Linked DNA regions of Homo sapiens: all the other regions are reported to be linked to region 1. Evidence: microRNA targets listed by miRTarBase, many of them from high-throughput screens and not tested one by one. Region 1 holds a microRNA gene; each other region holds the end of a gene's coding sequence. Distances are between the middles of the regions.

What was found. The annotated mature microRNA hsa-miR-670-3p reads UUUCCUCAUAUUCAUUCAGGA and lies in region 1 at 2,878-2,898, opposite strand. An mRNA with a match to its seed (bases 2 to 7 or 8) in the 3' UTR can be bound and repressed. Matches are read on the target gene's strand: a 7mer-m8 pairs with bases 2 to 8, a 7mer-A1 pairs with bases 2 to 7 and ends in A, and an 8mer does both.
Region 2: miRTarBase lists SLC43A1 as a target of hsa-miR-670-3p. Seed matches in the 3' UTR shown: 7mer-A1 at 3,315-3,321 and 7mer-A1 at 2,938-2,944.
Region 3: miRTarBase lists FAM167B as a target of hsa-miR-670-3p. Seed matches in the 3' UTR shown: 7mer-A1 at 3,238-3,244.
Region 4: miRTarBase lists TMEM106B as a target of hsa-miR-670-3p. Seed matches in the 3' UTR shown: 7mer-A1 at 2,431-2,437 and 7mer-A1 at 376-382.
Region 5: miRTarBase lists FAM13B as a target of hsa-miR-670-3p. Seed matches in the 3' UTR shown: 7mer-A1 at 989-995.
Region 6: miRTarBase lists ATP2B3 as a target of hsa-miR-670-3p. Seed matches in the 3' UTR shown: 7mer-m8 at 2,996-3,002, 7mer-A1 at 2,974-2,980 and 7mer-m8 at 1,568-1,574.
Region 7: miRTarBase lists SCOC as a target of hsa-miR-670-3p. Seed matches in the 3' UTR shown: 8mer at 2,666-2,673.

The regions. Positions count from the first base shown.
Region 1 is chr11:43,558,533-43,562,611 of GRCh38, reverse strand. MIR670 (microRNA 670) reads right to left here and starts at 2,956; the gene lies at 2,859-2,956. It also overlaps a transcript of HSD17B12 not described here.
Region 2 is chr11:57,481,616-57,485,694 of GRCh38, forward strand. It overlaps SLC43A1 (solute carrier family 43 member 1), which reads right to left. Exons shown (of 15, transcript NM_003627.6): 15 at 2,919-3,627. The coding sequence ends at 3,481. Among named protein-coding and RNA genes, the nearest start is that of RTN4RL2, 23 kb to the left of the region's middle. RefSeq lists a silencer at 1,400-1,729.
Region 3 is chr1:32,247,833-32,251,911 of GRCh38, reverse strand. It overlaps FAM167B (family with sequence similarity 167 member B), which reads right to left. Exons shown (of 2, transcript NM_032648.3): 2 at 3,056-3,541. The coding sequence ends at 3,311. It overlaps LCK (LCK proto-oncogene, Src family tyrosine kinase), which reads right to left and starts at 647. Exons shown (of 13, transcript NM_005356.5): 1 at 541-647. RefSeq lists enhancers at 1,295-1,384, 1,435-1,644, 1,835-2,044, 3,273-3,432.
Region 4 is chr7:12,231,352-12,235,430 of GRCh38, reverse strand. TMEM106B (transmembrane protein 106B) reads right to left here. Exons shown (of 8, transcript NM_001134232.2): 8 at 1-3,594. The coding sequence ends at 3,456. Among named protein-coding and RNA genes, the nearest start is that of TMEM106B, 22 kb to the right of the region's middle.
Region 5 is chr5:137,936,835-137,940,834 of GRCh38, reverse strand. FAM13B (family with sequence similarity 13 member B) reads left to right here. Exons shown (of 24, transcript NM_001385994.1): 24 at 487-2,875. The coding sequence ends at 610. The region is part of intron 14 of PKD2L2 (polycystin 2 like 2, transient receptor potential cation channel); the gene reads right to left. Among named protein-coding and RNA genes, the nearest start is that of PKD2L2, 49 kb to the right of the region's middle.
Region 6 is chrX:153,579,431-153,583,509 of GRCh38, reverse strand. It overlaps ATP2B3 (ATPase plasma membrane Ca2+ transporting 3), which reads right to left. Exons shown (of 22, transcript NM_001001344.3): 22 at 581-3,532. The coding sequence ends at 3,212. Among named protein-coding and RNA genes, the nearest start is that of CCNQ, 18 kb to the left of the region's middle.
Region 7 is chr4:140,380,472-140,384,550 of GRCh38, reverse strand. SCOC (short coiled-coil protein) reads right to left here. Exons shown (of 4, transcript NM_001153484.2): 4 at 1-3,589. The coding sequence ends at 3,447. Among named protein-coding and RNA genes, the nearest start is that of SCOC, 8.9 kb to the right of the region's middle.

The DNA.
Region 1 (4,079 bases):
CAAGTCATTTTTCTGATGCTTCCCTGGTCCAGAGGTATAATAGCTAAAATAATAATAAAAAATAAAAGTGATAGACATTTGGTATGTGCCAGGCACTGAGCCAAGCCTTGCAAATATCAACTCAATGAATCGTCACAATAACTTTTTGAGGTAGGTCCCCATTTTAAATGTCAAGAAACTGAGGCTTAGAGAGTTTAAATAACTTATCAAAAGTCACATAACCAACCACATATAAGAGCTAAGAAAGATTTGAATGCACGCCTTCTTGGCTGCAAAGCCTAAACTATCCACAGTTACACTGTACTCAGGATGCCATCCAGCCTATCAGAGACCTATGCCTACTCCTATTGCTGAGTGAGATGGGAAAGAGAAAAAGGCAGGATTTAAAAAAATTTTTAATATCTGCCTTTGTGCACACACATATTACAGAAACACATGTATCACTTACTTATCTAGAGTGCTTTAAAATGAGCCAACTCACTTCTGATTTCATTCTCAAAATAACTGTGTGGGGTAGCTATTATAATGTGAATACTCCCATTGTTTAGGTATGATAAGCAGTTTACGAAGAAGCGAAATAATTTGCCCAAGAGCATACATCCACATGGTTGCTTGAACCTATGTGGTTTGATGCCAAATTCATAGCTCTTTCACTATAACATAGTGCCACAATAATGAGACATACTCTGAGTCAGCTAACATTTATTAAACACCCACCATGGGTCAAGCACCGTGCTAGGCTCATTTGTAAACAGTCAATCATTATTCATTGATTGGTCTTCCAGTCCACTAACTGGACTGTCGCTGCAGCAGTCTCCAAGTCTAGTAAAGGTTTTATAAAATAATAAGCAAGAATAATTCTTTTTCTTTTTCTTTCTAGGTACTGTCAGTAGCCTAGACCAAGCTAAATATTTCTCAAAAAAAAAGGGTGTTTGTGTCACTTGAAGGAACAGGCTAGAAAGGAAAGCTATATTAAGCTTGAAAAACACAACTCTCAAAAACTCTCAAAGTCCCTCAACCAACGATGGAGGGTCCATAGTCTTCATTCTCTAGGTTGGATATATTTTTAATGCTATTTTATTTACAAACTAGTCCACCTCACATCTCTAAGATGCCCTCTAGCTTTGCTCCCTAGTAGGTGAGGAGCAAAAGGCAGTTGATGAAGGCAGGAAAAATACTCTTTTTATTGGGTCCATCAGGAATGTAGGCCCGTCTTCCTCTAGACCCTTTAAACATCAAGCCCTGCTTCTTCCACAGCAACATCAATTGAATTAATTGCTAAAGTAATTTCTGAGAACTTGTCATCCTGGGCCAGGAGACCCCTGGGCAGACCTCAGAGCAGTTGTGAGACAAACAAGAAGCAGCACTAAATAATTAGCACAATTATTCATGAATCAAACCAAATATATTTTATTACTTTCAGGTGGTGAAACCTAAGTACAGATCAGTCAGGGTATCTCCTGGATGGGACCAAGCTTGAAAGTGGTGGGTGGGGATTGGAACCCATGCTTCATCTGCAAGGCTTGGGCTCTAAGCCACGGCTTCAGTGAAGAGATCAGCAGATGAATTCTCCCCTCAAAGCTGTGATAGCGTCACCAGGAAGTGGTGGATTTTCACAGAGTGGGACTTGCTTAGAGGAGAAGAAAGTCCCAATGGGTCAAAAATGGAGGCCGTTCAAGTTTTTTTTTGCTGCGGATTCAATTATTCGCTTGACGAAGGAAGATGAGTAATAGGGTTCTCAGCCTGAAGTCTAGGTTACTTCTTACTTCCTCCCACCTGGATTGACTTCAGGAGCGTGCAACTTGTGTAGTTGCAGGGCCCTTGGCTCAGAAGAGCTCCATGGTTGGTTTAAGATTCTACTGTTATTGTCTTGAAATTCTTAAAAATTTTGTCTTTGAACCCGTGTTTTGTAAGTGAAGTCTATGGGATAATAGAGAATGTGTGTGCCCATCCATCGTTCCTGTCCCACAATGTTGGCAGTAGCCCATGCGTACAGAATTCCAGTGGGAGCTCAGTGAGACTCGGGGCAAGTAGAATGGAAAGTAAGCCTATGACTACACAGACGGGGGACACAGACAGTGCCCAGAGGTCATGCTTTCTGTTTGAACCAGATGCTTCAAATGCAGAAGGAAGGCAATAGAGTTCTAAGAAACACTAATGCCTAAGGGACCCTAAAGTAGCATTTCTTACTTATGTTCCTTCCCTGTATTTGCCAAACACCTATGCTGAAAATGTTGACACAGAAGGAAAGGTGAAGATAGAGCAATCCATAGCTATTTCTCCTCAACAGCAAGCTGAAGGTGGAGAGTGCTGGTACAAAGCGCTTGTATCAAGAAGTGAAATAAAAACACTGGAGTTCATTTTGTCAGCATCTCCATTGTTCTGGTAAGAATGAAATACCTATGCATATGCGACATATGAAATGTGAATTGTGTAATTTCAGTGATTCTACAAATGAGTTAAACGCTCTTGTGTTTACATTTACAACTGGCATCACACAATATAAAGATGAACGGTAAAATTCATGCTAAAAATTTAAAATTTTTATTTTTATTTAGCACCACATGAAAAACAGCAAATAAAAAACCACCATGACGATTCTAGAGAGAGATTGTGGAAGAAAGACAAAGGCATTATATTTAGGCACTTTCTTCCTGCTTTTTGAACAAGGGGCCCTACGTGTTCATTTTGTGCCAGGTTCCATGAATTCTATAACCAGTTCTGCCCCTGCCCTTAGGTTTCTTTTGAGAAACAGGGCAAGCACCAGGGCTCATCCAAGGTGATGAAGATAAAAGTCGGACTTCATTCTTGCCATAAATGAGTAGACACCTGCTTGCTGTAATGCTCTCCAACGTCGCGTGAAGGGGCAACTGACACTCCTGAATGAATATGAGGAAACCCAAGGCAAATTCAGGTTCACCACATACACTCAGGGACATCAGGTCCACCCCTAAACTGGATGAAGAACGTCTCAGCTGGCATCTTCGGACTTGACAGAGAGGAAGAAGGTCTGTTTCCTTGTGTATGTGGCTCATGAGCTGACGTGGGCTCTCGTGGGTTCTCATGTGGAGAGAACCCTGGGTACCCACATGCATACTGTTGTGGTTTTTGCACATATATGTGCATGTACACTGCACATACATGTCTGCATGTGACAAGTGCTTGGGCACCTGGTAGAACCTGAGAGAGGTGGTCTTTCCATGGATCTCCGGGGAAGGCTGATGGACATGAAATACTTTTTAGGTGCTATTCTTCTGGAACTTGGTCCCTAGAAGACCACAGCTCAGAGTAAAGAGAGATACTGACAGTCTTGGAGGACTGTGGAGAGCAGATGGCTATAATTCCAGGACCAGATTTTTTTTTCTTGTAACCACTTCCCCCACAGCATTTATATCAAAGGGAGACAAATACTTGTTGACTTAAGCAATAAACAGAAACAATTTCCTTCTGAGAAGTGCAACACAAAGAAACCTGATGCTTTCCGGGCTGTGGAAGACTCTCCATCCCCCTTCTTGGAGCAGGACCTTCAGTGATATGGACAGTGGGTGTCAGGCCAGCTGACCTGGTTTTACTTCACACCGGCAGATCCAGGGATGCAGCCACCATCCACTCTGCTTTATTTAGTGAGACAGCACTTCATACCAACAGCAGGCTTAATCACAGTCTATACCAACATTTCACTTCCCATTTCTATGTCTGTACTCCTTGCCTTTTGGTTATTTGGGGTGGGGGGTGGCAATAGCATGCTGATTCTATCTTCCAAGCACCCTCCCCAAATCTCCTACTTCCCTGCTGAAAACGATTCCCTTCTCATGTTAATTTGATGACCCAGCCAGCTGCACCCCTCCGCCCCCGCACCCCCAGCGCAAAAGAAAAAGCCACTACCTTACTCCTTCAGAATTACATCCCCGCTCAGATGGTCTTCTCAACTACCAGCCCAGTCCAAAGAACCCTCGTCATATTTCCAGGCTCATCTGAACCAGACATTCAAGTAGTGCCCCCACACGGATATTTAAGGACCATGGAGGAGGGGGTATTCCCTCCTCCCCCTGTGTTCCACCTCCCAGAAGTGGCTGCTC
Region 2 (4,079 bases), 14 Mb from region 1:
CTTCCTTCCTTCCTTCCCTCCATCTTCTCCACGCCTGGTATCATCATACAGAAGCAGAGAGGACTGCACTTGGTGAAAGTTTCAATTCTCCTGTGTGGAGAGGTGAGCACTGAGGAAGGGGTGGGGGCTGTCAAAGGAGACTTACCCAATCTTTCCAGCCCACCAATCCCTTGCCCAGTGTTTCTATAAAATAAGGGCCTTTTGCATCTGATTTAAGTAGGAAGCTGATTCCTGAGCCCCTCAGATCTGCTGAATCAGATAGCTAAGGGGGCCCTGGAATCTGCATTTTAGCAAGCGGAGGTGGGTTATGAAGCACTCCAAAGTTTGAGACACGCCTCAAAGGTGGAGTGGTTCTGTGGGGGGCAGAAAGGAAAATGCAAAGGGGGAAGGGGTCACACTTGGGGAAGGTTTCAGACAATACCGAGTGGAAAGGGTGATGCCAGGTGTGGGGAGTAACAGATAGAGGAGGCAAAGTGAGTGGAGACCAAGCCAGACCGGGGAGGAGGGGGCCACAGCCAAGGTGAGACAGGTCAGCAGCCAGAAACCGAAGCAGACACTTGCAGGGTGCACCCCGCCCTCTCTTCGTGGCAATCTGAGACCGAGGACGTGGAGACCCTGGAGAGCCCCCAACCTTGTTTCTGGGGGGTGGGTCAGAGAGGAAGCCTCTCATCCCCGGGCACCAGCGGCCTTCCCGGGAGGCTCAACACGCAGATACCTGGATAGGCGTCCATCACTCCCCCGGCCAGAGCCCACCAACGCTCCTCGAGGTCCGACCTTGTCCCTCCTTCTACCCCACAGTCCCCAGTCCTAGCTCATCTGCATAAAGCTCCAATTAACATGTTTTTCCTTTGCTATTTGCGATCCCAGAACTCGTTCCCCACCCCGAGCCCGTTTCCCGCCGCCTCCTCGCCCCTGGGAGGGCGGCCCCATTAACCCTCGCGACCCGGGCCGCTCCTGGCGGTCCTGACCCCGCCACCCCGTCCCGCGGCGGGGGTTTGGGGGTGAGGGGCGCGCCCTGGGGCAGAGGATTGCGCGGCAGGGTCTGCCACAGGGCAGAGGCCAGGGCTCTCCGGGAAAAAGGCAGGCGCATATATGCCCCCCTTTCTGGGAAAAGACGGGGAGGGGGGCTTCTCCTGGGAGACTCCAGGCTTCGAAATTCCTCGTTCCCTATCCTCCGGCCCCCGCACCCCTCCTCCTCCCCGCCACGCACCCTCTCCCCTCCCCAGCCATCTGTTCCACTCCGCAGCGCCGCGACAAACACGGCTCCAGCTCGCTTCCGCCCCTGCCCAGCCCCCTCCCCAAGCCCCGGGGAGTGGGGGAGTGAGCAGACGCCCTTCTCCTAGGAGGCCGGAATTTCTGCCTCCATCTCCCACCGGGGTCCGGCTGGCCAGAGGCAAGCTTCGAGACCCCCCACCAACCACCACCACCGTTGCGAGGGCCGGTGAGGCTGCAGATAACGCTTGCAAGGACGGGAGTCGGGGAGGGTGTAGGGCGAGTTTAAAGGACGGGCAGAGCAAGCCCCGGGAAGAGGCAGGGGTTTTCCCTCCCGGGTCGCCGCCCCCCGCACCCTCGGAGCCAGCCGCAGCCACGCAGCGCCGCCTGCCGGGCACACCAAGGACCTGGCGCGCACGTGGCGCTTACCCCCACCCCCGGGTCCGCTCCTGGCTCGCGCTCAGCCTCCCCAGACTATTCGCAAATTGAGGATCCCGGACACAGAGTGCAGAGACCCCGGCAAGCCTACTGAAAGCCAGCCGAACCCGCTGGTGGGTGCTAGCCAATTCTGATTTTGTACTTTACAAAAACAAAAAAAGTCAGTGTTGGAAGTCGGGAGTCTGGGCTCAGAGCAGCAGGGATCTGCGATGTGACTTTGCCAAGTCTCCAGACCCCTGAGGACAGGTTTTCCTATCTGAAAACGGAGGGGACAGTCTCTCTTATTAACTTCTCAAGAGAAACAAAGACAAAGGGAGGGAAAATGGCTTAGCTGGAATGCTGTCTTACAGAGCCAACCTTTGGAGGTGGGGGAGATGGCCAAGGCCTCTGAGGTCACTCTTGGCCCCAGGAGCAGCTGAGAACCGGAAAGAAGCTTGGGACCTCCTTTCTGCAGAGCTATCCTTTCCACAGACTGCCGAGGTTCCAAATTGAGCTCCACCACCTAACACTGTGTGCCCTTGGGTGTGTGCCTTAACCTCTCTGGGCTTGTTTCCTACAGCGACAAGAAAGAATGACAACACCAACCTCTTAGGCTATAGTTTGGATAAAATGAGATAGCTGTGTAGAACAGACAGATCCTAAACCAATGTTAGTTTTCCCTTCATTTGGGGACTTGCTCTAACCTCCAGGGCTTATGTCCCAGAGGCACAAGCAGGTGCAGGGCTGGATAAATAAGGTATGTCTTTCTGCAGGATCTCTTGTCCTCACTGATGGTGTCTTCTCTTGATATAGATAATTTTAAAGCTTCACGTTATTTATTTATTTACTTTAAAGCCTCACTTTAATGTTAAAGGTAAATGTAAATATAGTATAACAAGGAAGCTCAAAATTTGCATAAAGTTTTAAGATAAAATAGGAGACTCCAAAAAAGTGTTACTTTCGGCAGGCCCTAGGGATGCTATGGTGGGAAGTTTGAGTCATACCTTAGCATTCTTTCTAAAGCATTCTGTCCTAATCCTCTGTATGGAGAAAAGCCAGCTTCCTGGATGTACCCCAAATCCTGGGAAGTAGGGGGCAGGAGCTGGACTCCCTCCAAGCACTAAGGGCAGGGCATGGTTGGGAACAGGGAGGTGAGCCAGACAGCCAGAGGCGAACGGGCTGGCATGCCAAGCGTCCTAGTTAATGCCCAGCTGAGCCTGGGTGAAGAAGGATGGGGGTGTGGGAAGACACCCCCCACCAACCGCCAAAGACAGGCGCACACCAGCCAGTCTCTCACTTCCCTTTTTATTTCCTCTAAGACTTGCAAGCAGCAGCACCAGAGAGGGAACCTGCCCTCCTGGCCCTGGAAGGGGCCGACCCCCAACCCCTAACCCAGGACACAGCTGGCACCTCAGGCCCCTTTCCTTCTGAAAGGAGGGCTGTGTCTCTCTCACATTCACACATACACAGACACATGCATGTGTGCACACTCATGGCACATGGGACCTCAGGGGTAGCCTGTTTGCCGATCCCCCCAAGAGGTACCAGGAGGCAGACCGCTAGAAGGAGATAAGAGGCACCCTGGTCTCCTCCAACCCAAGGAGGAAGAAGGCTCAACCCCTCTAGGATAGGGACTGTCTTCAGTCAATGGAGCGTTGACTTAGGGGGCGTTTTTGAAGGTTTTTTTTCCTCCTTTTTGCAGTCTTTACAAAAATAGAACTTCTCTTGGTATTTATAAATCTACGGCCATGGCTCTATGTGCATGTTACAGGTAGAAAAGCCATATGGGGCACTCCTTTTGGTTGCTCAGGCCTTGATTGCCTGTCATCCAGGTCCCTTGGTCTGAGAAGTCTATGCGGTCACCTCAGAGCCGCTAAGCACCTTCAGTGGGCCCATCCCATTGGCGGCGTACTCCTGCTGGAGCCGGGCACGGTAATAGAAGAGGTAGGAAGGCAACAGGAATCCCAGGAGTGAGAATAGCAGGAGGCCCAGATTCACCTTTAGGGCAAGGAGAGAGAAACAGAGTCAAGTAGGTAGTCATCTGCCCTTAGCCTCCCACAGGGAGGAGAAGGCGGCCATTTTTCTCCAGGTCCTGAGCCAGAATAAATACAGCTAGTACTTATTATGTGTAGTCATTGTTCCACCAGTATCTCACTTAATGTTCAGCAATTCTGCAAAGTGGCTGAGATGAGACTTCTCAGGTATAACAAGTGGCAGGGCCTGGTGGGTGCCCACACCATATGGCACTCACTAGGTAGGTATGAGGAAGGCACAGCACTGTAGGAGTCTGGGCTGGTCAGGCTGCTCCCGAAATGGGGCCTTCTGGGCTCACCCCTCTGACCTTTGGAGATGTTAACCAATGGGATCCCGTTCAGGGTGGCGAGAGGAGGCTCTCAGACACAGTTCAAGGAACTGGGATGCACAGCCTGGTGGACAGAAGGCTTGGAAGG
Region 3 (4,079 bases), not on the chromosome of region 1:
TCTCTCTCTCTCTCTCTTTCTCAGGAGATTCTTGTCACTGGGGTCTGCCCCAGAAACCAGAAGGATTCCTGGGTCCTCTGAGTCCAGCCTGTCCATCACCCTGCTCCAGGCGGGGTGGCCACAGCCTCAGCCATCACTCTCAGCCCTGCCACTGCCTTGCTGAGAAACCGTGGGCAGTGAGTGCCTTGTTCTCTCTGGGCCTCAGGAGCCTCATCCTCATGGCCTGAGGGACTGGGCTTGGTGGTTTCTGGAAGCCTTTTTAACACCTGACTGTCCATGTGCCTGGTGTCCAGGAAACACGCTCCCAGTCAGGTGGGGCCACTGGTGGACAGCACGACAGAGGCAAGCGACACCAGCTTCGCAGGAAAGAGGCGACCCAGCTACACTGCCTGCCTCCCACCTGACCTTGAGCGAGGATCTTCTCTCCCCAGCCACAAAGGGCTGCTGCATCCCTAGGGAGCCTGGGCCCGCACAGCTGCAGCCGTCTGCTATCAGGCCTCTCACCCCGGCGCCTGCGCCCCCAATACCAGCGCTCCTTACCTGCCCAGCCCGGGAGCCCTCTGGCCCCATTCACATGGTCCTCCTGGCCTAACCTGGCTGCCTGGACAGTCTCAGCTCCCTTCGCCGTCGTAGCCACCACCTGTCTCCCCGCGCCCACGTCCCACCCTGACTTCCTGCCTCCTCCGGAGGGCTCCGCAGCCAACCGGGCCCCAGCAGCCCAACCACAACCCTCTAGCACGCCAAGCTTCCTGCCACCATAGACCCCTGCCTCTCAGCCCCTGGGGGTCCCCTACATCTCCAGACCAGGTCCATCTTCCCCTACTGTCCCAGGGTGACACTGGGAGGTTTAAAGTTGAGGGGAGGATGTCTGATAGACCCTCCCTTCTGCCCTCCAGGGTGCATCTGGGCAAGAGATTCAAGGGCAGCCTTTGGGCCCAGTGAGCAGGGGGCAAGCGGACACACACTCAGCTTATGGTGAGAGGCAAACAGCACCTCAGCACCACCGTTGCAGCTGAGAGACCCTTTTGTTTCTGTCTGGCAGCAAAGGTAGCATCGTTCAGAGTCAGAGGAGAGGACAATATCCCTGTTAAATAGCTGGTGAGCAGACCATGCATGTTACAGTCAGGTCAGGCCGAGAGAACAATTCCCATGTCATCTCAGGGCATGGAACAGTAGCTTTATTATAGTCAAGGGTAGGTGAATGGCAGGCTACCATCCCTCTTACAGACAGAATGCTGGAAAACAGCCTGTTTCAGGAGGCAGACAGGACAACCTCATGTCTTCAAGAGGGCATAGTAACGGCCCCTGCTGTAGTCAGAGGCCAGGACAACACCCATTAATCATGGTTGGAGAGTAGGGCAACAGTTCGAATTCAGGTAGAGGCAAGGCCACAGCCCCTGGCAGAGGTGGAGGGCTTGGCACTATCTCCTGCAACAGGTGGAAGACAGAGCAAACAGGGCCGCTCAGGCCCCCAGGTGCAGGCCACAGACTGTCAGGACTTTCTGTTATAAGCAGGAGGCAAGAAGATTGTCACGAGCAGCAGGCAGGCAAAGAATTTCCATTTCCCCTGGGGCCAGGCTGAGGGGGCACCCATCATTAGCTGAGGGCCAGGTCACCAGTGATATGAGGAACTCCAGGTGGCCTCATCAGGTCCAAGAACTCGGCCTTGACCCCACCAGGAGGAAAGTGCACATGCGTCACTGCCTGAGTGAGCTGGTAGGGGGAGGGGAACCCACAGAGCATTGTTGGGGCTTGTGAGGTGGAAGCGATGCTGTGTGCACCTCAGCTGCAGAGAGAAGTGGGGGCAGGAAATAGGTGGGGGGAAGAGGAAGCCTGAGTTGGAAAGTCAGACAAAGAGGGTAACACAGAAACAAAGGCTGAGAGAGACAAAGTGAAAAACCTTCACAGTGACACAGAGCCTAGAGTTGGAGCTCCAAGCCTGGTGCAGGGCCCAGACTCCCTTGCAATGTAAGCCTGAACACTTCACGGTCCATCTCCCTGTCTCAGCACAGAGTAGAAAGACTGCCGCGCTGGGAGTGAGTAATAGTTCATATTCACTGAGCGCTCACTGTGCACTATCTCCCGTAAGGCACATCTGCTGCCTGTGGAGTGAGAATCAGCATCTCCATTGTGGAGGTGAGGAAACAGACTCAGGGGTTAAGGGAGCTCCTCAGGGTCGAATAGAAATAAACGGTGGCTCAGGCCTGTAATCCTAGCACTTTGGAAACCCCAGGCAGGTGGATCACTTGAGGTCAGGAGTTTGAGACCAGCCTGGCCAACATGCTGAAACCCTGTCTCTATTAAAAATACAAAAATTAGCCGGGCATGGTGGCGGGTGCCTATAATCCCAGCTACTCGGGAGGCTGAGGCAGGAGAATCGCTTGAAATCGGAAGGTGGAGGTTGCAGTGAGCCAAGATCGCGCCACTACTCCAGCCTGGGCGAAAGAGTGAAATTCCATCTCAAAAAAAAGAAAAAAAAAAGAAAAGAAAAGAAAGGAAATTAGCTAGGCGAGGTGGTGGCCACCTGTAATCCCAGCTACTTGGGAGGCTGAGGCAGGAGAATCGCTTGAAATCAGAAGGTGGAGGTTGCAGTGAGCCAAGATCGCGCCACTACTCCAGCCTGGGCGAAAGAGTGAAATTCCATCTCAAAAAAAAGAAAAAAAAAGAAAAGAAAAGAAAGGAAATTAGCCAGGCGAGGTGGTGGCCGCCTGTAATCCCAGCTACTTGGGAGGCTGAGGCAGGAGAATCGCTTGATCCCCGGAGGCGGAGGTTGCAGTGAGCTGAGATTGTGCTACTGCATTCCAGCCTGGGTGACAGAGTGAGACTCTGCCTCAAAAAAAAAAAAAAAAAAAGAAGCAGAAGAAATAACAACAACAAAAAGAAATAAACGGGGTAGCTGGCTTTGAACCCATGTCTCTCAGATTCTGCATTCTTCAGGAGCCCAATTTACCTAAGTCACCTCCCATGGGCCTGCAGTGAACTAGGGTGGTCCCAGTGACAGGCGACATTCAGATAGCGGCCTTGGGCCTGAATAAACGACTGCAAGAGACCTTGATGGGAACCAGAGAAAGCGTTTATTGAGGAGTTTGAGGGTGTGAGCTCCTCCTCCTCCCCCTCCCAGCTGGGTCAGCAGAGGAAACAGGATGCTGGGGTTTTGCACTCTTGGAATTCAGCTCTCAGAAACCTGAATGTTCCTCCTCCCCCGCCAGGAGCTGGTGCCTCTGGGGCACCCCTCCCTTTCCTCTTCCCAGGCAGGCAGGGGAAGCGGCATTGGGAGAGGGGGCGGGGAGTCGGGGGGCACAGGTGTTCCTCAGCAGAGGGTGAAGCGCCGGGCGCTGATGTTCATGCGCGTGAGGCCCAGGTGCCGCAGCAGCGGGGCCAGGGCTAGGCCGGCCCCGGGCTCCAGCTCCAGCTCCAGCTCGGCCTCATCCAGCAGCTCCTGGTGCAGGTGACAGGCTTGGTCCATCTTCAGTCGGTGCAGCTGGGCCCGCAGCCGCAGCAGCTGCCCTGCCAGCTGCCTGTCCTGCGCCTGCATCTCCCGCTGCGGCCGAGAGGGGGCGTGAGCCTACTGGACAGGCCCTCGGCCGCGCGCCGTTTCTCCCTTCCTGGCAACGCTGGGCCTTTGCACTGACTGTGTCCTCCCCAGCCCCCTCTCACCTCAGCTTGATCTCTCCCTATCTCCCAATCTGGCTTCACCTGGTGGTTCTCAAACCCAGCTAAGGAGTCATTATTAAGCAAATCCAACTGCCTGGGCCCCATCCCAAATCAACTAAGCAGAATCTCTGTGTTGGAGCCTGGGTATCTTTATATTTGCACATGTTGAGTTGGGAGCCACCTACTGAAACTTCACCTCTTCAGAATCTGCCTGCAGCATGGCCAGTGCCTCCTTTTGCACTTCGCTGTATCTTTAGGCCATAGAAAGTCCCAGAGTAGGGGAGGCTGTGTATTTCCCTATTTATAATGGTGCCCCACACCCCCCAACACCAGTGCTCTGTCCCCTAAGCAACAGGAGCACAAGGTCAGTAGATTGGATGGAATCCTTCTTCAGCAAGCCTCCCTGAATACAACACTGGACAAGT
Region 4 (4,079 bases), not on the chromosome of region 1:
ATTGCTTCACTGGCCTAACAAGGCACAGAAAAACTGTACACAAATAAAATATAGCCATTTAAATGTTCCATACTTAAGATGGTTATTCAGTAATTTCAAACAATTTATGTGGTATCTAATATTTTCATACTATTCTTATTTCAAATCTCAAATAAATTAATCTCTATTATTTATAAATAATTTCCTTAGACAATGGATCAGTCTTATCTTTATTGGAATGATGAAGGGGTACTAAATTTTAACAGAAAATTAAGCTAAAGATTATGTTCCAAAGCATTTTATAAGTGTTCATTCTCCATTTAAAATATTTTAGAAAACAATGCTACCAAAATCTTAGTCCAGCAGTATTAGTTTGTCACTACTAACTATTTGAACTTTCCTCTCATTTTTAATCATACCAATCTGAGTCAGCAGGGATTTCCAATATATATTTTAAATGATAGAACACAGATATGGGAGACAGAGATACTTGATCTTGCTCCAGTTGTACTACTTAGTAAGTACGTGATCTTCAGCCAGTCCCTCAACTTCTTCATGCCTTTCCTTCCTCTTCTAAAAGATAAGGAGCCTATCACTCTCCTTTGTTGGACTCATGGAACTGTGGGAAATCACGTAAGAAAAACATAGGAAAGAACTCTAAAAAGGGCCAATGTGCTATCAACATACAGAGGTTTGTTATAGTACTGGATTTTATTAGAATGACCAGTCTACTAGGGTGTAACTTAAAGTTATTCCAGGAAGTATCAGAAAAATTTCTGTAACATATCTTTACCATGTCCTCTGGATAAGGTCTGAGAGCAGTTTAGAAAAGCGTATTAATACCTATCCTATTCCCATGGAAAAAAGCACACTGGACATTGACCTAAGAAAAGCTAAAAGCCTCATTCACTCTTTCTAGATGTTTTATGGCTATACTTCTGCTTCACCTGAATGTGTGTTTGTAGTTTTATTAATTTACAGCCTGTTTTGTTCCAGGCTTATTCTGACAGTTACTTAACTCTCTCTGAAAGTAGTCACATACCATCTTTATTTCTCTTCTATCTTTTTACTTGTTTCAAATTCTTGTTTTTTTCTGACTCAAACTCCACTAAAAGTAGATATAATAAAAAAAATTAATTCAAAAGATGAAGAAAAAAGATTCAAAATTAAGTGACTAAAAGCAAATGCTTCTACTTTCCATCCTTTTCAGGAGATACTATCATGCACTCTAATAGTATATAAGAAGCACAGATCATCAGAAAAATCTGTTTAATTTACACGATGTAATTTTCCAAGGTTAAAAGACACAAGCAAGAAAACAAGGATTGATTTTTGTATGAGCGTATCTAAAAGATAATTTTGAAGAAATGAATGGTGATAATAAAGTAAATGGGACATGAGGACAGGATGGGAACATAATAGAAAGGATATGATAAAATAACTTTTTTTTTATTTTACACAGTCACTAAATGTGTAAAATTTACACATTTTAGTAAATGTGTAGTTCACTAGCTAAATGTGAAAGCAGACAGGTGACTGGTCACATATGGAGAAGCAGATTTGGAAGCCCTACTACAGATACAGGTGATTTTTGAAGTCACATAATTAAAAATTTTGAGACAAAAGGGGACCTATATCATATATAGACATAGATCATGTCAAATGAGAAAATGAGAATGATATAAAAAATACAAACAGAACCTGTATCAGAGAAGTATGCAGTAGTAGTCAGGAAACGTAGCAGAAGAAAAATGAAAATGATTTTTTTTTTTTTAAATACTAGAAAGGCCATAATGAACTTAAAGGACTGATTTGGGTTTAATAGTAAGGATGGCTTGAGTTAGCAATGAATTAAGGGAAGACTAGTGTTAAAACAAAAAAAAACCAAAAACCACATTCAACGAATTGAAGATACTCAAGAAAACTTGCAGAAAATAATATGAAAATTAAGGGGAAACCTGAGTGTGTTTAAAGGCAGAATTAAATAAAGCTTATGTTTTATGGTTGAGAGAGTCAGACTAATAAACAGGCTGTTTCAGACCTAAGTTAGGCACTTAGGGGTGGGGAAAGGGAAACCTGATTTCTGTCATGAGAAAACAGAACGAAATTAATCTCAACCCAGCTACATTTTTTGGTATCATAACCACTCCTACACTTAGTACATATTTTAAATGTCCCTAGAACTTGGTAAGTGAAAAGACAAAAAAAAAAAAAAATGAAAAATGATACTGAAAATATAAAACAGCAAAGTTGAATAAGTCAATAATCTATATTTGAAAACAATTTTAAATAAAACCAAAAGTAGAAAACTATAAAAAAGTAACTACTAGAGGCATCATATTCCAAGTGATGTGCAAAGTGATTAAATTTCTAAATAGGTTTTATTTTGGCCACCATCATTTAATGACATTCAATTAAGGATTTCTTGAACAATTTCTACCAAAAAAATAATTTCCTCCTCTAAAACATTGATAAAATTGATAACTGGGTACCTAACAGTTGCAAAACATGTCTACACCATTCTTTAGTATGAAAAGCAACATAAAAAAATGGAGCATCAAAATATTTTATTTCAAATTTATTTTATGCCAGATCCAAGCTGTAACTGGAACCTATTCCCAGTCTATGGGTTTCTGAATTTCATTTTCCTATTTATTGTATTTTTATGAGAAACTTGTTGTAATGAGTCTGTACCACTTTATTTGACATTTACTAAAGCTGTATAAAAGCCATGCACAGTTTATTTACAGTATTGTACATTAAATGATAATGTTTGAAGATCACACAAAGATTTCACAAAACTATAACTAATACAGAAAGATGTGTGAAAACATTAGGGGCTTTCAAAATTTTAGGTATGGAATTTTGCAAAGATTATTTTGGCTTATAAGTGTTAGGCAATCACTAACCTGAAATAAGTGACAAAAACATGCAGATGATTACCATTTCAACAAATGAAAAGCTATAAATGTCTAGCTAAAAGCTAAAATATTGTGTAGCTGAAATACTACCATATAACAATGGGAATTTATAAAACAGGAAAAAAGGTTATTCTTTAAAAGTCTTCCATGAGTAATAGACTTTCAGTAATTTTCTATAAAAACATTCAGAAATTAAGTTTCTCAAATTATGTTTATCACCAAAATTATGTTTTCAGTAGTGACTGGAGCTATGACTTTTAAATAATTATTTATTGTACTATAGGGGAAGTATCAGCTTTTCCCTGTAGGGGATAGGCTGGAGAAGGAAATCAACCAGTAAATTTAGATTCAAGTAAAAGATCCTAGTACAAATATATCATTAACACAGAGTGGAGAGTTACAAGAACTGCAGGTCCACATACTTTTAACTGTACTCTTAGAAGTGTAAACTTTAGGTTTGTTCAATTTAAGGTCTCCTATTAGGAAATACCTCTTCATTGAGAGTATAGGAAATATCAATAGATATTTCTTCTTTAAATCCATCTCTTCCAGTTTTTACTGTTGTGGCTGAAGTACATTTAAATATTCAGACTGCCCCAACTGATAAGTTGTGTTTCTTCCACAGTCGACATACTGATACCTCTCCTGGGATATCTGTTCAGAGTGGCCAAAGTATGTTGTTGTCACAGTAACTCTAAAAATAATGTAAGTGAGGAGAGACATTTAATAGTTATATTAGAAGTTTTTCCATAGTGAGACTACTTTAACACATAAAAATTATCTCCCAGAAGAGAATATTTGATTAATGATAACTTAATATTGTGCACACAATCCTCTTAAGGAGTATTTCCCCAACAGACAACAAAAATGGATAGCTGAGTGAGCCCTGTAGACATAATTACACATAATAAGTGTAATATTTTAAAACAATTATCTTCTGTTAAAAATATAAAAGTTCATTATATGCTTAAAAGTGACCATGGTTCTCTTATCATAGAAAAAAAGGTTAATCAAATGTCAGCTAATGGTCAAAACACCAAACCTATAATCAACAATGTTTTATTGGCTTAGATAACACCCAATTTACAAACCAATAATATTCTTATTACTGTTAATGACTATTTGTCAAGGGAGTAAGGAATTGGATGTGGGGCTCAGTTCCCTGTATCCTTTCCATTT
Region 5 (4,000 bases), not on the chromosome of region 1:
TTAGGATAGTTTGATGCTTTAGCTAGCGATTAAACTGAATTGCATTGGGTCATTACTATAAAGTTAGAAAATTACTCTTGTTGCAGATAAGATAGTTTACTTTTACATCTCAATTCACTGGAGCCGCAGTTAACTAAATGTATTAAATGACTCAGTGTAGCCTCCAACACTTAATAGACACTCACAGACCTGGCAGAGTCTAGCACTGGATGTCCTGTTAAAATACTGGGTTTCCTCCAGTTATCTATGTTGATTATTTATAAGTATAGCATCATTTAATCTATCAGTAGAGAAGTCCATCAAAAATTTTAGAAGTGTTCCTTGGGGATGAGGGTATTAGTTCAATAACCTTTTTTTTTTTTTTTAACAGAACAACTTTTTATTTGAACTTATGTTTAGTAACAGTATGTCTCATATTAAGACAACTTTTGGATCTTTTTTTCCAAATGATCTCTAGAACATTACAAATTTTATTTTCTCCCCTAGGAATGCCCAGAAAGAGGATCGTGTTCCAGTGCTTGAGGAGTACAGAGAGTACAAGAAAATTAAAGCCAAGCTTAGGCTTCTTGAAGTTCTTATAAGCAAACAAGATTCTTCAAAATCCATATAAGATACGTTCCTTGAAAATTCATATCATAAAGTCAGTTGTATTCCTTGAAGCTATCATCGTGTGTACTTGGCTGGTACTTAAATTCGTTTTGTCAGGCACTCAGAGAATCTCATTTTGTACTTGGTTGTGGTGCCACTAAACAAAACAAATGATGGGAGAGTAAGTAGGCCCTCTCAAGGGAGCGTAAGTGATGTTCCATATTAACCACAGACTGTCCTCTCCACCTTTAGCAAACATATGGTTTACTTCATTGTTTTGTACTACAGATACATCCTTTTAGCAAAAGACTGGAATTTTATCCTTTCAACTTCAAGAACTTTGGAAATGCAAGCTTTTTGTTATTACCAACTTTTTGTTTCTCATTACTGAAGAAAATTGGAGGAAAATCTTCATACTGAATTCTTCTGTTGCCTTTTTCTTACAGAATGACTGAAAATTTGAAAGAAAAGCCTATAAAAGTGCACATACGCAACTGTGTTCTCTGTTTTCCTAGAAAACCAAAATCAAACTGAGATTTCAAGTCGTACTATGGAACACCTTTCTGTTTAATTCCCAAAGTGACATCTTCTCACAGGTAGTATGTTAGTAAAATTTTGCAATTCGCTGGTCACACAGCTCCCGGATGAAGATAACAGTTGGTAGACCAAAAGGTGACCTCGCTTAGTATATTGAAAACACACACCACACATCACACACAGAACTGAATCATACCACATGCTGCCTATGGGACTTCAGTTACTGTTTCCTGAGTTACTGTTTATCCGCTGGCAATGGTGTGATTTGTCTGGATCAGATCCGCGCTATTCCCCAACCCACCTCCAGATAATGTGAGAAAATAGCCATGTCAGTATGTAGGAACTCTGATGGTGCTCAGATTTGTGTGTTCAATCAATGGGCTTAAATCAGCAAAATATTATGCCTAAAGTAAATCTGTTCTTAACAAGGGCTCTACCACTGCATTTTCACATGTACCTTCAGGGGGTTATCTTTTTTTTTTTCCCCTCCTATTTTAATCAGCAAAATCCATACCAAAACAACGACAACAACGCCCTCTTAAGGGACCACCCTTTGGTCAATCATAACATGCTGTTTAAAGCAGCTGTTTACAGGATGTGTAGTGGTATGCCCCTTGTCATATACTCTTAGCATATCTTTTTTTCCTTTGGCTTTGCATGGCTTTTCTTCAGGTACTGTCTCGGTATCATTCTGCTAATCATTGTTACAGAATGGTGACTTCATTTGTGCTAACAGTACAACAGCAGATTTGGGTCAGGCTTAATCTAAGTGTTAACTTTTTTTTCTGGTGCTTTTTTGGATTGATGACTGTCTCACTTTGACTATACCCATGTTTTGCATGCAATGACTCATGCATGGTTTTCTTAACTAGCTAATATTAACAATTTATTCCATATAAAAATGGAATTTTGCAACATCCTTTAATAAGGTGAGGGAAGCATGAACCTCAGACTTCTGGCACTATTACATAGTAAGCACATGAAGTAGTTTGATAATAAATAGCAGTTCTAGTACTTCACATTTCACCCGTGTGTGCAATGCCTTTTTCTGGGGGGTGGGGGGTGAGGGAAAACCTGGTAGTGAATGTGTAGTTGGGGAATAAAGAAAAGCACTAAATCCTGCCCTTTTTGTGTGGTTTCCTTTTGATACAACTAGGTTATTCATAATGTATACCTAGAAAAGTGAAATTGAAAATACCAAAAGATGTATCATTTTTATTTGAATCCATCATGCAGTGTACATTTCAGATAATTTCCTTCAGTCTCCAGATAGGAGTGTATCCAAACATCTAATTTTATGTGCACTGTGTATCTTATATGAATGTTTTATTTTATATACCACATGCAAAAATGTCCATATGCACTATTTAAATGTTTTAAATAATATATTCCTTCTTTATAATGCTAAATCTATATGAGTACCATATTTTTATAAGTCAGTGGTCTGACTGGTTTCATTTTAGAATTAACAGCTGCTTCAATATGTTATTCAATGTTAATGTTTGGCTGTGAGTAGAATATGTAAAAGTGGCATGGCAGCACTTATGCTCTGTGACAGTATTGTGTGTCATAGTTGAGCAGTAGCTGGTAGAATTAGGCAGTTGGTGATAGTTTTACTTTGGTACAAATAAAAACTGTATATCTATATACAAATAATATATAGATATATATGTCCACCAGTATAATGGCATTGCTGTGTCTGGCACTTCATTGTACAGACTTTTATAATAAAAGAACTTGAAAGTTCTAAGTCATTGTAAATGTATGTTTGTTTTTCCACTGGGCTTAAAAAAAAAAAAAAGACCTCAAGTGTTCCCTCAGCTTAGGCTTTGTTTAAATGATCCCACCCAGGGGCGATGGTAGGGAACAACAGGGTCACTAAACTATTTGGCTGGCTACAACTCTGGGAAATGGTAAGACAGGGAAAGGCCATGTTGTTCATTCCCTTGTGCAGATCTAGGGAGAAGCCGCAGAGAGAACAGTTAGCATTTCTTGTTACAATGAATTATCCTATTAAGAACACTGGATGTACAGTCTCTTAAGAGAAGAGCTTGTCCTGAGGAAGGTGAGTAGTAATCTAAAAATGTCTTTATATTTGAGTTTTAAAATTCAGGAACTATTGAGCATCAATGTGGAAGTTGAGTGCTGAGGTCAAATGATGTTGCTTGGGCTAAGAGAACATATGGCTATCGTAGGGGGGCTTACATAGCCTAGAAAAATTAGAAGAGTTTCTCTCCAATTTCCAAAATGCCAGCCACACACAACTTTCCAACCCTCCAAATAAGGCTGTTACAGCATCCTCATTTACACTTTCCAAACATAACTTATGACAGTGATACGCCTACCCTGCTCTGTATTTTATTTTTGGGAAACCTTAAATGCATTACACCTTAGAAATGGTCTAGGTAAATTTCCAGTTTGAAGATGTTAGTGAGATTTCTGTAGGTGGCTGGGGAGTTTGTTCTACACTTTGGCTTTTTCCAGAAGGCTTCAAATTCTAAAGAATGGAGGGAGGTTACTTTACTTGGGTCTTATATAATGGTTTCCCAGAATCCTAAGCCTTTATTAATTTATCTGTGGCCAAAGGAATTCAGAACATGGTACCTGACGCACTTGATAGCATCAATAGTTTTTCTACTCTGTAACTATGAGAAAACTGTCTTTCTCTACCTACTGACTGAACTACTGGAGACCTGCCGCCTGAACTAGAAGCATTTTCTTGTACTTTCACTTTTCTAGAATTTGATAATAAACCTCATTATAAAATCCTTTGTACCAGTGTGTGTATACTGGAGGCTTGTCATAATATGCATGGATTGTATAGTGAGTCCCTGTCAGAGGCACTTCATTCTGACCCTAAGGATAGTTTGATGAT
Region 6 (4,079 bases), not on the chromosome of region 1:
CCATAGAGACAGAAAGTAGAAGATTGGGTGCCAGGGGCTGGGGGGTGGGGAGTTGGGGTTGAACGGGGCCAGAGCTTCAGTTTGGGAAGATGAACAAGTTCTGCGGCTGGACGGTGGTGATGGCTGCACAGCACCGTGAATGTGCTTCTGCCCCTGGGCCGCACACTTACAAATGGTGAACGTGGTACATTTTATGTGATCTGTGTTCTACCACAATAAAAGAAGTGGGGAGCGTGCATGTGTGTCGGGGAGCCTCAAATTCCTGGGCCCAAGGGATCCTCCCGCCTCGGCTTCCCAAAGCGCTGGGATTACAGGACTGAGCCACCGCGCCGTGTACTAGAGGCCCTTTCAAGTCAAGACAGCCGCGGCTCCTGCAGCAGCTGGAGCCCCTCCCACTGGGGGCCTAACATCCCAGCATAAGTTCCTCTTCTGCATACACATCCGGCCAGGCTGCTGCACACCCAGGGGAAAGCCCCTCCTGCCCGGGGCTTCTCCAGCTCTGTTAAAGAGGCATGAAGGCACCTTTGTTTTGTTCTGCACAATAATTCACCAAATAATAAATCACACACGTTACCCAGACCAGGATGTAAGGAGCCTTTCATTTTTTTTTATACACAGAAATTTTGGTCTATTCTTTAAGTTAGGAAATTCAACTACAGACTTTAAATTATTACGTATCTGTGATCTTTCTCATTAAGTTTTTTTGTTCATCTTTATAACAGGCAGATAAAAATGTAAAACATATTTATGAACTGAACACAGTTGACCAAGCCATTCCAAGTAATATAATGCTTTATAAAGAGGGGCTTCCCAATGAGACAGGGCCCCCAGCCTTGAAGACTGCAAAAACAAGAGCAAAAGATTCCAGGTCATGGTACCCCGTTTCTGAACTCCACAGCACAGCACAAAGGTGACCTAGGGACTAAACAATAGACATTTACATTAGGCAACTTTATACAGCAGCAGTGAGGGTTTGCTTTTAATATCTATTGGCCATTGGTCCTATCGGTGTGTCTACGACAGAGAGTGAGAAGAAGCCGGTGAGTGCAGCAGCACGCAGCTCCAATTTCAACGTCTCAAATTTGATTTCTCATTGAAGAACACAAAGACCCTCAACAAATGGAGTTGCCCTTTTTCTTATTATCGTTTAAACAAGGACATCAGGGAACAGTTTACAAATGGGTGACATTCTCAATGTGCCCTTTAGAAAAAAGGGATGGCTTTGAGTTATCTGCAGCTGGCATTTTAAAGTGGGATTTTCTTTTCTAACCGAAATTCTTTTGCCCAAGATTTGACTGCTTCTGCTCAGGGGTGACATGGCATTCATGGGAATAGTGGGGATGACGCCTGCTCCTGTTTGGTTTTGTGTGGATGCCGGTGGAGGTGAGACAAGCCTTCTGAGGGTGCCAGTGCACGTTGGTGGTTTCCATTCCGATCCTCTGTCCCTCAGGTCCCAACTGTCTCCCAGTGGCTGAGCCCAAGGCCCAAACACCTCCCTGCAAAACGTGACACCTGCAAGTGTGGAAGGCAAGGGTCCCCCATGGCATCACTGTGTGGACCTAGGGGCTTCCTCAGGAGGGTGGCAAAAGTCGGGCCCCTCTTTATCCCCTTTGCTCATTTGGGGGAAACTGAGGCTTGGCCACCAGGTGCCCACACTGCCAGGATACGCTCCCCTCAGGACCTGGTGCTGAGCCACAAATCCATGACTTCATGGCTTAAGCTTGGCCGCTGGACACAAAGACTAGGGTGGGAAGAGTGCTTTGGTGGTGGCACCTCTGATGTCACAGCAGACATCAAGGTGGTCTACCGAGGACTCCTCGGCATTTGCCAAAGCAAACAGTGGGAGTCCATCCAGGTGCTGAGGGGACAGGGTCTGAACTGTGGCTGCGTCCCTGCCGTCATTCTCCCACCACCAGCTCCTCCGGGCTTCTGACGCTCCCTCTCCCTCCATTGGCTTCTTTTGAACTCTTGGCCCTGCCCCCGCCCCCTCGGACCTGTGCTCAGCTGAGGCTGCTCTCTGGACTCTGGGCAGGACCCACAACTCCAAGAGTGCTTCATGCTCTTGAAGGTGGGGGCATGGCCAGGATGAAGGATGTGGAATTGGAGTAGGAACCAAAGAAAGCTGAAAACGAAACTCCCCTTTCACTAACTGGAGGACTCCTTCTCATCAATATTTTGGTTTTTTCCTTTTAGATTAAAATTTCCCTTGAAAGGGTTTTCTCCTCTCTGGCAGGGGTCTCAGTGCAAATGCTCCAATTATACCTGCTCCAGACCTGGAGCGCCCCCTCTCGGCCTTCTCCTTGGGAATCTCAGTAGGGCCGGGCAGAGGGCAGGAGCGAAAGGTGGGGGCGGGGTGATGAGGGACAAAAATGGGTTGACCAGAAAGATATTCTTGCAGTCTAGTTCCCTGAAAAAAAAAAAAAAACAACTACAACCTTGCTACATTCAATAATGAAATTTCCAAATGAAAATGCCTGATAAGAGGAATGCAAATATCATGCCAGTAAATAGTTCCTTATTGAAATACGCATCTGGCCATATATACGTGTGTGTGTACAGATCCACACACATACACATATGTGCATGCACGCACACACATGCGCACTGCGGATGTGCCTAGTTTTTGCAGAGGGCGGGTTGCTTTGTGGCTGCAGGGCCGCTTGCAGGCGGCTCCCTCAGGTGGCACCCTTCACAGGCCTGCAGAGCACTCAACTTTTTTTTTTTTTTTGCATGAAGATGCTGATCTGATTGCCCCTGCATGGGTGCAACAAAAGCTCCCCATAAACCCAAACCAGCCCCCTGCCCACCACACAGCTCAAATGGCAAACACACGGTAAAACTGTAGTTTGTTAAAAAAGAAGCATCAATAGAAAAAAAGGTGGGGAACTCAGCTCTTCGCACTTTCTACTTCTTCTCCTTCCTCCTTTGGACGAAGAACCTTCTCCTCCCCCTTTTTGTCCTCCTCTTCCTCCTTTTCCTCCTCCCTGTCCTCGTCTTCCTCAGTCCGGATGAGGAGCCTGTGGCAGGCTGCACCCTTGTTGAATGGATTTGGGTCCTTGCAAATGCCCTGCCAGAAAGGTCTTCAGCCACCTTAGTTGTTCCCTCGTTTTGCAGGTGTGCAGGTCCCCATATGTGTGTGTGCGTGCATGTGTGCGTGTGACTTCGTGTGAGTCCGAGTGTGCGTGTGCGCATGTGCTGAGACAAGTTCTTGTTAGAGGGACGTCTCCACGCTGTGGAGCGGGCTCCCGGGACTGGAGGAAAACACTGAAGAGGTAGCTGACTTGGTGACATGCGTGGTCAGGTAGATGCCGCTGTCTATGGCGTTGTTGTTCTGGTTGGGGGACGGGGGCGGGGGGGCCCGGAGGCGCTCCTCGTTCTCGTCCACGTCCGTGTCGTCAATGAGCGGGATGTTGTGGGTGTAGTCATTGATCAGAAACTCGGGCGTGGCCATGAAGTTGTGAATGGAGGTCTTGGATTCTGGTTTCTCCAGGCCTTCATAGAGCGAGCTACGGAACGCTTTCACCACCCGGATCTGGAGTGGGAGGTGGAGGGACAGGGCGCGAGGTGGGAGCAGGGAGGGAGGAAAGGAAGGGAAAGGAAAGGAAACGTGGAAGGAAGGTAGGAAGGAAGGAAGGAGACAGTCAGTGGCCGGCTGGTGCTGGTAAATTCCACCCACGTCAATGGCTGGGGGTCATGGCATGAGAAATGTCCACCCATTTGTTGGAGGGCTGCTACGGAATGGGATGGCTCTGCCTGCCTTTGGAAAGAGTTTTCAGGTGTGGGCCTTGGTCTCGTCAACCGATCCGCATGCAGGAAAAGATGGCAGTGTCTTTCTCTAGGCTGAGCTGGGCAGGTATTCTGGAACTTGAGAGTGCTGCACTAGGCTCTTGGCTGTGACCCCGCAGTTCCCTGTCCTGGGGAGACGAGTGGCTTTGGTGACCTCTGGGGTCTCTGCCCAATCTGAATTCCAATTTGGTAGAAAAGAAAGATGATTTGAAAAGGAGAGAATGCTGGTGAGTGGGATGTCTTCTCGATCTTACCAGAAAGTCCGAAGTACCTGCTGGTATGAGCAAGTTCCC
Region 7 (4,079 bases), not on the chromosome of region 1:
AAAACTACTAACTGGAGACATCAAGAGTAGGGTGATTCTTGCCAAAGACAGGCCAGGTTGACGATCATCAGTTATTGAGGATGGGATTATCTCTAAACTCATTTAGCAGGATTTTTGCTAAAACTGGACTAGTCAAAAACAGGGCTCAGAGGTGCCTGTCTAAAATTTGGTCGAGTCTTTTCCAGAAGCTGGACACAGTCCCTGTGCACACTGTGTACCACCTATATTTCTAATGAAGAAATTATCCTGAAGTATTGCATAGCAAAAACTAAGTATATAGCATTAGCTTACCATTAACATGACAAGCAGTGGGGATATATTTTGACACCTACTAATCTGATAGCTCTAGCTGGAAAAAGCCAGAATGTTAAGTGAATTGGCTATTCCTTGCTTTCAGCAAGGTATCAAAAAAATTGACATTTTCAAGCAAAGATAGAAGGGAATAGACAAAGTTTTGATACAAGGAACCTCATGAAATTAAGCCAATTGTTTCTGAAGTCTGAATAGCAGCAAAGGTTCAAAATTATTTTTGAGGTGGGGGAGATTGGGGGGAAGCCCATGAAGACTTCTCTACCAATCGTTAAGCCAAAGGAACCCAGCTTTGCAGTGATGATCTGCATGTAACATTCCCAGTGTAATCTTATTTTTAGTTGATCTCAAGATAGCCTCCATTAAAGAAAGGCAAAAATAATACATACTTTGAGAATTTGGTCAAAAGCTTGGTTGTGGTTCCTCGGCATATGCAATCAGAAGCACACTGATAAAAAGGCTTGAGTTTTTGAGAGAATCGTATTCCACAGAAACATGAGCTTGGCCTTAAAATGATGGGCACCAAATTCACACCAGCAGGAAGTGGACTGTCTTCACAATTCCCATGGAGTGAACACCCAATCTCTACTTCTGAGGTAGCCATGGAAGAAAATGGATAAGGAGTAACTTTCCAGAGGGGAAACCATGGAGTTCAATGAACAAGGGAGTCCCCTGCCAGAGATCAGAATCATAGTTGAATCAAGGAACTTCTCCACTGCTAGGGACAAAATCTTCATACATCTCCCAGGAGCATTCCACAATTTTTACGTTTCCCTTTATTCCATTTTCCAAATTGAGACTTTTTATTTGGCCATCCTGTCCCAACTACATTATAAATGGGCAGCAGCAAGGGTGAGAGCAAATAATTTGCCTATCAGTTTAGAGATTGTCAGACTATTAGAAGCCACATGTAAAGGGATGGACCTTTAATAGAGATCCTAGATTGTGAGCTGAATCACTAGCTGGATGAAGAGGGATTACTTTCTGTGTAAGGGAAGATACTTGGTAGCACAAGAAGAGCTGTGGCTGAGGCTGCTAGCAGCCACCAAAATCTTGTATTTATAGCTGGAAGATGGCTTCCCAGCCAGGGACTACATTTCTCAGCTCCTCTTGTATCTAGATGTAACTAAGTCTCCACACCACTGGAATATGAGAAGATATATGAGCCATTTCCAGGCACAGCCCATAACACCTTGCATATGTACACTTCCATGTTCTTTTTCTGCAAATTAGAAGAATAACTAGAGTGACTTGAAAGCCATGATTTAAAATGGCAGCACCATCCTCAGCCAAAGTCCCTGAATAACTGTTTGAACAAGGGCTGCTAGCCTGCAATGCTGACCTTGGAACCACTGGTTGGGAGAGAAACTTCTATATTTATATTCTTTATCACTGGGTCTCTTGCTAAAGTAGCTTAGCCTACCCTAAAAAATACAACTTCCTTTTTCCCTGGAGATACTGGATCCTTTGAGTGCTTTGCTTTTGTTTTCCAAATTAATGTATAATAGCCTATGATATTTATATTGATAACCAGTTATAGTTGTATTAATAAAAATATTATTCCCCTAAATAATCAGTAACTGGGTACTTAAATAAGATACACTATTCTGTGGCATTGAATAACCCTGGATACACCACTATACCTAAATACCCCATTTACTTAGGCAACTATATCAAAACACACACAACCTCTGAAATAGCTTTTTATTAAACGGCAAAGCAGAACTGCAACACAATTTAAATGTCTGTAAATTAGGTCACAAAAGGGATGCAAAATGTTTGCAGTTTGACTATTATATATTCACACAGCTAAAGTCATTCATCAACTCTTACACCAATACATAAGATTATTCCATGATTAAAAGCCCAAATCTAATAACCTTAAGCTACATTAGTGGATCTCTTTTCATATTATAAGATTTTAGCAATACTTCCAATATTGATTTCCTTACCAAATGGAATCTAGAAGCTAAATTTTTAAAAATTGTTAAAGGATGACTAAAACTCTTCAAACCCAGTAGCAGGGTTTACAGAAAATTCTAGAACAAGTGAGATAAAATACTGAGCAAGATAATAAGTATACATGTATAACTTTCCCATTTTATTCACTATTCTAATACTAATACACCATTACGGAATTTTGCAGAAGTTGACCCACTGGGTACAAATCAACTTAGAGACCAAACTCTTTGTAACTGTTCTCATCCAGATGTGGCTAACATAAGGGTAGTCAAACTTAATCCACTTTCATATATATTTCCCAAAAGATCTACTCTGTGCCAGAGAAAACACAAATCTGGAGTGAAAATATTTGGTTACTACTGTTTACCGAGTACTTTTCCACCCTATTTCCATTTTTCCTCAAAATTTTCTATTTTAACATACACATGACCAGAAATTATATATTTTCAGATAATACAAAATGAGTTATTTTGGGCAAAAAGAAGTTTTTAACAACAAATATTCCCAAGTTAATTCAGTTTCAAAGAAAAACCTTCATTTTTAGCCTCCATCTATTTCCAATTAATTAAAGAGACACTAGCATTCCTATCTTAACACTAAATACACAAATGACAAGCCCTAGCTGAGACAGTATCTTATTTTGGTTAAGTTTCAACAATTAAAATACAGGTTACTCTCAGAGATGATTAACTATTAAAATTACTTTTACAAATGTGACACCAATTTTTTTCCTTAGCGGAAGGGAAATAGGAAGGAAGAGGCAAATGGAGAAGAGGCACAAGATGGTGGACAGGGTACATAAAGCTGTGCATTTAGTACATGATTTTGGTCACTTTTTCACAACACGGTGGTTATTTTCTTGTATATCTTACTAATCCTATAATAAAAGACAGTGCTAAACCTACAAATTCAATAAAACATTCATCTTTAAGTTTCATAAATATATGCAATTCTAATCATAAAGTCTCTACAATACATTTGCACGTTTTCATAGACTAACATAATACACAAACTTATGGAAGTCTCCTGTTATTGTGTTATTTTTGTCTACATCTGACATTATCTTCATAAATATTCAATGAAGCCACAAAGGTACTGTAACTTTTGGAATCTATCCAAGTTTTAAAGAAAAAATGATCAGCAGCAATTCCATAAAACAGAAGGGTGTCAATCCCTTACTTTCTTTTGCTTTTTGTGTCAGTTGTTTGAAAAACACTAGAAGCTGACATGAGATTTTCTATATATTGTCCAAGAACTTGGTTTTCTGATTTTAGCTTCAGATTTTCTTCCTTAACTGCATCTACTCTTGCAGAGAGATCTATATAAAAAATAAAAATGCCCATTATCAATAAAACAATGACAATGATTCCATATTACAAAATTCTTAGGATTCATTCTTAAAAGAAATAATACAATCCTTAAATTTTAAGAATTCGGATTTTAGAGACAGCAAGGTAAACAAACTGAGTACAAATTAGTAGACAAATTCCTAAAAAGATATTTCACATTAGACTAAATGCTATTCTTCATAAATAGCATTAATGTTGAGTAATTTTTTAAAAAGACTTTGTTTTTAAAATGTGAATTTTGGTTCATGTCTTATCAACATAAAACTATAACATCTTTACTAGAAATGTTTAAGATATATATCAGGTTAACACAACTGAATTCATATACTGAATACAGGCAGTCAGTTTCCAAGCAACTTATCATCTTGTATTGTAACATTATCAAGACATTGAACACATGCAGTTCCTGATGATCACATAAGAGGTTAATTCCGGCTGGGCACGGTGGCTCGCACCTGT